Linked DNA regions of Homo sapiens. The protein of the gene in region 1 purifies or fractionates together with the protein of each later gene. This does not show direct contact. Each region holds a gene or a part of one and is shown on either strand. Other genes may lie near its edges.

The links.
Region 2: the proteins of ACSM3 (region 1) and MIPEP purify together in Homo sapiens (affinity purification with mass spectrometry; one large-scale study listed by BioGRID and IntAct). This does not show direct contact.

Annotation. Positions count from the first base shown.
Region 1 is NC_000016.10:20,770,329-20,774,152, forward strand, and holds part of ACSM3 (acyl-coenzyme A synthetase ACSM3, mitochondrial), read left to right. Parts: intron 1-3,824. UniProt on the Homo sapiens protein: Catalyzes the activation of fatty acids by CoA to produce an acyl-CoA, the first step in fatty acid metabolism. Capable of activating medium-chain fatty acids with a preference for isobutyrate among fatty acids with 2-6 carbon atoms.
Region 2 is NC_000013.11:23,840,821-23,844,644, reverse strand, and holds part of MIPEP (mitochondrial intermediate peptidase), read left to right. Parts: intron 1-3,156; coding exon 3,157-3,310; intron 3,311-3,824. UniProt on the Homo sapiens protein: Cleaves proteins, imported into the mitochondrion, to their mature size.

The DNA.
Region 1 (3,824 bases):
CTAGAAATATTTTTGTTGCCATGATAGGGGCAGAGGCAGTTGCTACTGGCATCTAACAGGTAAAAGCCAGGGATTCTGCTAAATATCCCATAATGCACAGGGCAGCCTCCAGAACAAAGAATTATTTGACCCGAAATGTCAATAGTTCCATGGTTAGTTGAGAGACCCTGTATTACATAAATGTAGAATTCTAGGTTGACTTAAAAAAAAAAAAGGAGAAGAGTGAAAAGTAATTCCAAGAGTCAGAAATGGTAGAAAAGGAGGCACAGATAAATCTTTGGGGAAAATGTAAAGGATGCAAGAATTCTCACTTATTGGAAAGAAAAATGATCAGGCTAAATGGGAAATGATTTGGGCCAAAAGAAATGACATGGCTTCCAACGTCTAGAAATAAGGACCCCAAAGTTATTATTTTTCCTGTTATGTTTAGTTATGTAATAACTATACATAGTTATGGGGTACAAAGATATTTTTGATACATGTATAAAATGTGTAGTGATCAAATGAGGGTAATTAGGCTACCCATCATCCCAAACATGCATCATTTCTTTGTGCTGGGAGCATTCAAAATCCTCTCTCCTAGCTTTTTGAACATACTCAATATATTATTCTTAACTGTTTTCACTCTACAGTGCTATAGAACACTAGAACTTATTCCATCCATCTAGCTATAATTTTGCATCCATTAACCAACCTCTTTCTATGCTCCTCTCCCCACTACCGTTCCTAGCCTCTAATAGCCACAATTCCACTCCCTACTTCTATGAGCTCTTTTCAGGCTGGAGTGCGGTGGTGTGATCTCAGCCCACTGCAACCTCCGCCTCATGAGTTCAAGCAATTCTTGTGCCTCAGCCTCCCGAGTAGCCGGGACTACAGGCACCTGCCACCATGCCGGCTAATTTTTGTATTTTTAGTAGAGACAGGGTTTTGCCATGTTGGCCAGGCTGACCTTGAACTCCTGGTCTCAAGTGATCCGCCCACCTTGGCCTCCCAAAGCACTGGGATTACAGGCGTGAGCCACCCACCACGCCAGGCCGAGCTCCTTTTTTTTTTTTTTTTTTTTTTTTTTAAGAGACAGGGTCTTACTTTGTTGCCCAGGCTGAAGTTCAGTGAAGCTCATTTTTTTAAGCTCCCACATATGAGTAAGAACATGTGGCATTTATCTTTCCGTGTCTGACTTATTTCACTTAACATAATGTCCTCCAAGTTCATACATGTTGCCACAAATAACAGAATTTCATTCTTTTTTATGGCTGAATAGTATTGCACTGTGTATATATACCACATTTTCTTTATCCATTCATCTCTTGATAGACATTTAGGTTGATTCCATATCTTGGCTATTATGTACAGTGCTGCAATAAACATGGCAGTGCAGATATCTCTTCAATAGACTGATTTCCTTTCCTTTGAAAAAATACCCAGTGGTGAGACTGCTAAATCATATGGTAGTTTTATTTTTAGTTTTTTGAGAGGCCCTTATATTGTTTTCTGCAATGGCTGTACTAATTTATATTCTCACCAATAGTGTTTCAGAGTTCCCTTTTCTCCACATCCTCTCAAGCATTTGTTATCTTTTGTCTTTTTGACAATAGCCATTCTAACTGGGGTAAGATCATATCTCATCATGGTTTTGATTTGAATTATCCTGATGATTAATGATGTTGAGCATTTTTTCATATACTTGCTGCCAATTAGTATGTCTTTTGAGAAATGTCTATTCAGATTCTATGTCCATTTTTTAATTGAATTATTTGTTTTGTTTTGTTTTGTTTTGCTGTTGGGTTATTTGCATTCCCTGTATATTCTGGATATTAATTCCTTGTCAGGTGAATAGTTCACAAATATTTTCTCCCATTCTACATCTTGTCTCTTCTCTCTGTTGATTGCTTCCTTTACTGTCCAGAAGCTTTTTAGCTTTGTATAGTCCCATTTGTCTGTTTTTGGTTTTGTTGCCTGTGTTTTCATATCCTTATCCCTAAAATATTTGCCTAGGGGAGTCTCAGAGCCTACTCTGGCTCAGGATCTGCCCAATTTTATTAAATTTATTATAAAATTTAAAAAATTTTAAAAATTAAAATTAAAATAAAAAATAAAACATTTGCCTTGATCAATGACTTGAAGCATTTACACTATATTTTCTTCGGTTGTTTTATAGTTTTGAGTCTTACATTTAAGTCTATAATCCAGTTCGAGTTGATTTTTGTATATGGTGAGAGAGAGGGCTCTAGTCTTAGTCTACCACATATGATTACCACTTTTCCTCGGACCATGTACTGAAGAGGATATCCTTTCCTCAGTGTATGTTCTTGGCACCTTTGTTGAAAATCTGTTGAATGTAAATGTGTGGGTTTAGTTCTGGGTTATCTATTCTGTTTCATTGGTCTATGCATCTGTTTTTATGCCAATACCATGCTGTTTTGGTTACTATAGCTCTGTAGTATGATTTGAAGTTAGGAAGTGTGGTGTCTCTACTAAAAATACAAAAATTAGCCGGGCATGGTGGTGCATGCCTGTAATCCCAGCTACTAGGGAGGCTAAGGGAGGAGAATCACTTTAATCTGGGAGGTGGAGGTTGCAGTGAACTGAGATCACACCATTGCACTCCAGCCTAGGTGACAAGAGTGAGACTCCCTCTCAAAAAAAAAAAAAAAAGATTTAGTGTTAGTTCTTATGGTAGAATTCAGCAGTAAAACCATCCAATTCTGGGCTTTTTTTATTACTGATTCAATCTCATTACATATTATTGGTCTATTCAGGTTTTCTATCTTGGTAGGTTATGTGTGTCCAGGAATTTATCCATTTCCTCTATGTTTTCCAATTTGTTGGCATATAGTTGTTCATAAGAGTCTTTAATGATCTTTTGTATTTCTGTGGTACAGTTGTAATGTCTCCTTTTTCATTTCTGATTTTATTTATTTGGGTCTTCTCTTTTTTTCTTAATCTAGCTAAAGATTTGTCTATTTTGTTTTTCCTCAAAAAATTTTGTTTTGTTGATCTTTTATAATTTTGCCTCAATTTCATTTATTTCTGCTCTGATCTTTATTATTTCTTTCTTTCTACTAATTTTGGATTTAGTTTGTTCTTGCTTTTCTGGTTCCTTGAGGTGCATTCTTAGATTGTTTATTTGAAATCTTTCTGCTTGTTTGATATAGGTGTTTATGGCTATAAACTTCCCTTCTTAACACTGTGTTTGCTTTATTTCATTGATTTTGATATATTATGCTTCCATTTTCATTATTTTCAAGACATTTTTTGCTTTCCTTCTCAATTTCATCATTGACTCACTGGTCATTCAGGAGCATGTTGTTTAATTTCCATGTATTTGTACAGTTTTCCAAAGTTCCTCTTGTTACTGATTTCTAGTTTTATTCCATTGTGGTCTAAGAACATACCTGGTATGATTTCAATTTTTAAGAATTTGTTGAAATTTGTTTTGTGCCCTAACATATGGTCTATTCTGGAGAATGTGCCATGTGCTGATGAGAAGAAGAATGTGTATTCTGTAGCTGTTGGATAAAATGTTGTGTAAATATCTGCGAGGTCCATTTGGTCCAAAGTGCAGTATAAATCCAATGTTTCTTTGTTAATTTTCTGTCTAGATGATCCGTCTAATGCTGAGGGTAGAGTGTTAAAGTCCTGAACATTGTTGTATTGGAGTCTATCTGTTTACATCTAATGATATTTGCTTTATATATCCAGGTGCACTGATGTTGGGTGCGTATATATTTACAATTGTTATATCCTCTTGCTGAATTGATCTATTTATCATTATATAATGACCTTCTTTGCCTCTTTTTATGTTTTCTGACTTAAAGTCTATT
Region 2 (3,824 bases), on another chromosome or scaffold:
GTAAAGTTTCTTTTTATTCTCCTTTATTTTTGTGTTTTTATTGTCTGGAAACAAAAAAATGAATTGCTTTTTATAACCAATTATAGTTTAAACTTTCTTGCCTTGGTAGTAGGTTCTATGGGAGGTTTCTGCTCTGGTAAGCTGTGATTCTCTATGGCTGCCTGCCTTTCTTTCCAGTTTTGGGGGCAGCAGTTTGCTCTGTGGCCTTGATTCTCTGCTGAATCTAAGAAGATTCTTGATTTTCAGCTTGTTCAGCTTCCTGCTTGTTAGGATGGAGTGGTGACTTTCAACCTCCTCATGTGCAGGAGTGGAAACCTCAAGCCTGGACCACTTCCTTTTATAGTTTATTTTCTCCCCTCTTTCCATGCACTCCTTTCTCTCAGTTCTTCAGTACCTCTGAACTGTTCTGTGTCTTCCTTCCCACCCCTCCCTCTGGTAGTTCAGGGGTCTGCCCTTTACCTTCTCTGCCCGCATCGCCCTTCCCTAATGGCCCTGTCTCCCTCTATGGCTCTAATATCTGTACAGTGAAGTCTCCTTGTTCTCCTTAGCTTTGGGTCCTGAGTGTCTGGTATCTCATGGGCACTTCACAGTCGGTTCCTCCAAAATGGAGTTTATTTTCTGTGAGCCCTCCATCCTCCTCCCATCATTGCACCTCACCCTCCTCTCTTCTCCCACAAACACACCCAGATTCCCCTCTTCCTTTTTTGTGTTCATTGTGCCGGCTGATTCAGTGACTCTACCATCCACTTATTTGTCCAAGCCAGAAACCTGAGTGTTATTCTAGATTGTTCTGTCTTTCTCATCACCCTCCAAATCCAATCACTCACACAGTCCTGAGACGTTTGCATCTCAAAGGAAAAACACATTCATCCCTGACCCCACTGCCCTCTGTCAGAGTTCACCCTCTGAAGCCTGGAAGTCTGTCCTCCTGTCAGCCCTCCCTGCCTCCTGCATTCCACCCTCCATGCTGTCCACTGTGCAGCATTCCAGAAAACATCAGATGCTCCCCTATGGCCTACAGAAGCTGTCTCCCAAATGGCATCTGTAAGCAATTCATTGAGAGTGTAGTCATAAAATATTAGAAATTCTATGTATATTTATTTTTCTTTATCTCAACTTATAAAAATGTCTGCTTTTCTTTTTGCAATGTGATAAAACAATACCACATGCATATACTTTATGAGTGTACTAATAGAAGGTTGAATACTCAAAAGTTATTTTAGTGTGCATTGGTGAGGAAGCTTAGAGGCCATGGCCTATGGTGCATGGTCCCAGTTCCTCAGCTTAGTGGACCAGGCCCTCTGTTTTCTGGCCCCTGCCTGCCTTTTCCAGACTCCGCTCCCATTCTTTCTACATTTATCCCTGCATTGGTAACTGCTTCATCTTTAACCACATCCTTTCTAGAAGTTACCAGGCTATTTTATGCCATCATACTTTAGTTATACTGTCGCTTCTGCCTAGAATTCCTATTATGATTCCCATTTTCCATTCCTCATCCCAGCCCTGCCTTGCAAAGTCTGATTCCTTTTTTTTTTTTTTTTTTTTTTGAGATGGAGAGTCTTGCTCTGTCGCCCAGGCTGGAGTGCAGTGGCACAATCGTGGCTCACTCAACCTCCGCCTCCTGGGTTCAAGCAATTCTCTGCCTCAGCCTCCCGAGTAGCTGGGATTACAGGCACCCGCCACCACACCCGGCTAATTTTTGTACTTTTAGTAGAGACGGGGTTTCACCATGTTGGCCAAACTGGTCTTGAACTCCTGACCTCATGATCCACCCACCTCAGCCTCCCAAAGTGCTGGGATTATAGGCGTGAGCCACAGCACCCGGCCGATTCTTTCTTGATTCCTATCCGAGAAGCTTTCCCTGGTGCTACTCTGCACTCCACAAGTAAAGTCATCATGCTCTCCTTTGCCCTCCCATTTTGCAGTGCTCATTCGTTCATGCTTCAGCACTGTCTGTTGAGCGCCAGCCGTGTGCCCACTGCACCAGGCCCAGGACACAGTGTAGTTGGTTCACTTCTCTGCCTCTTTCAGTGCCAGCTGCTTAGACACAAAGGCTCTTCATTCTTCTCTTCCAGCACCCCGCAGGTTTGCTGACAGCATGCTTGAGTGAACGAACCAGGGAGCGAGGGCACTGGATCATGAACGTCTCTTTCAACACTAGGATTCTGTTTAAAGAAAAATCAGTCAGAAATTAAGGTGTAAATTTGTGGATGTCCATAGCCAAAGTCTCATTTGTTGTGCAATTTATGTTCACTTACTAAACTCATTCATTTATTAGTAACTATGTTTTTATATTTTTATATATAAATTTGTTGTGGGGACTCATTTTATGGAACGAAGTGTTGTGCAGTTCTAGAATCACAAATAAAGCCAATTGAAAAAAAAATGTGTATTTTGGTAATCCTAAAAAGTAGACATATAATGAGAACCTACAATATTCTAGAGCCATTATTTTTGGCTATGGCTATATATTTTGGCTTGACTTAATGATTCAAATGTAAACATTCAAATCACGTATTTTGGATTTGCTTTGGTTTATATTGGAATATATAGAACAGAAAAAGTTATTTTTGGGTGAAGAATAATTCACCTTACTAGTTACGTTGTCTTTAATTTAAGATATCTAACTATAAAACAGATAAGATCTGATTATTTATATTGCAGGCATTTTTTTCATAAATGAATATTTTACTGGATGAGAACTTTAAATTCACTTAATGTGCCTCAGGATTTTTATTCATTTAATATTTATGTATATAGGTCACAAGTTTCTAGAATATAATTCATAAGGTAAGAGTTACCATTATAACTGAAACTGATCATATTTTGCATGTAAGTATGTATAAGGAATGTATACAGTGAGCAGTTGAGACTGCTTAATTGGGTTAGTGAAAGAGTAAATAACAGGGAAGGGACAAAGGTTAGGGAATGATATATCTACCTTAATTACTGACTTATAACTAACACTAGTAATAATCAGACTGTCATTCTGAAGAAAACTGTCTGAAAACCCCTCAAATGATATAAATACACTTTTATGTTTTGAATCCTTCTTTAGCTCCAGTGATCTTAAGTATTAAATGAAAAGTTAATTGAATTTACCTTCAGAAATTGAAATAAACAAAGATGCTGTTGAACCTCTCTTCCTTCTCTTAGGTATAATATTGAGCCCAGCCTATATTGCCCGTTTTTCTCTCTTGGAGCATGCATGGAAGGCCTGAATATTTTGCTTAACAGACTGTTGGGGATTTCATTATATGCAGAGCAGCCTGCAAAAGGAGAGGTGTGGAGCGAAGATGTCCGAAAACTGGTGAGCTCCTCCTGCTCAGCCTGCAGTTGCAGGCATTTACCTTTCGGTTGGGCAGTTGAGTCAACAGCAGTTTCAGGTTTACATCAACTTTGCCCTGACTGAGTGTGTCCCCTGCCTTATTTCTGCTTCACAAAAAAAATCCAAATTGCACTTCTGATTTAAGACACTGTATAAAGGATCCAAACATAAAACAGCAGAGTTTTCTAAAAAAGTTTTTTGGAACTTGATAGAAGGTTGAATATATATGCACCTTCATATATCCACAAATTCTATTTATAGGAAAATTGTCCTTTACTTTGTATATACCTTCATAGCTGTGTGTCCGTTTTGGTTAATTCCCAAATCCATTGGATAAGTGACCTTTTTTCTCTCCAACCCCCATCCCATGTTGTAGGGGCTTATATTTGCATCAGATATTAATTTACGTCCGTGTTCTGATTTATTTAACTTCTTTGATAATAACTTCAAACCTAGCAATCATCTTTCTCCTGTGAAGGCCCACTTTATATGAGGC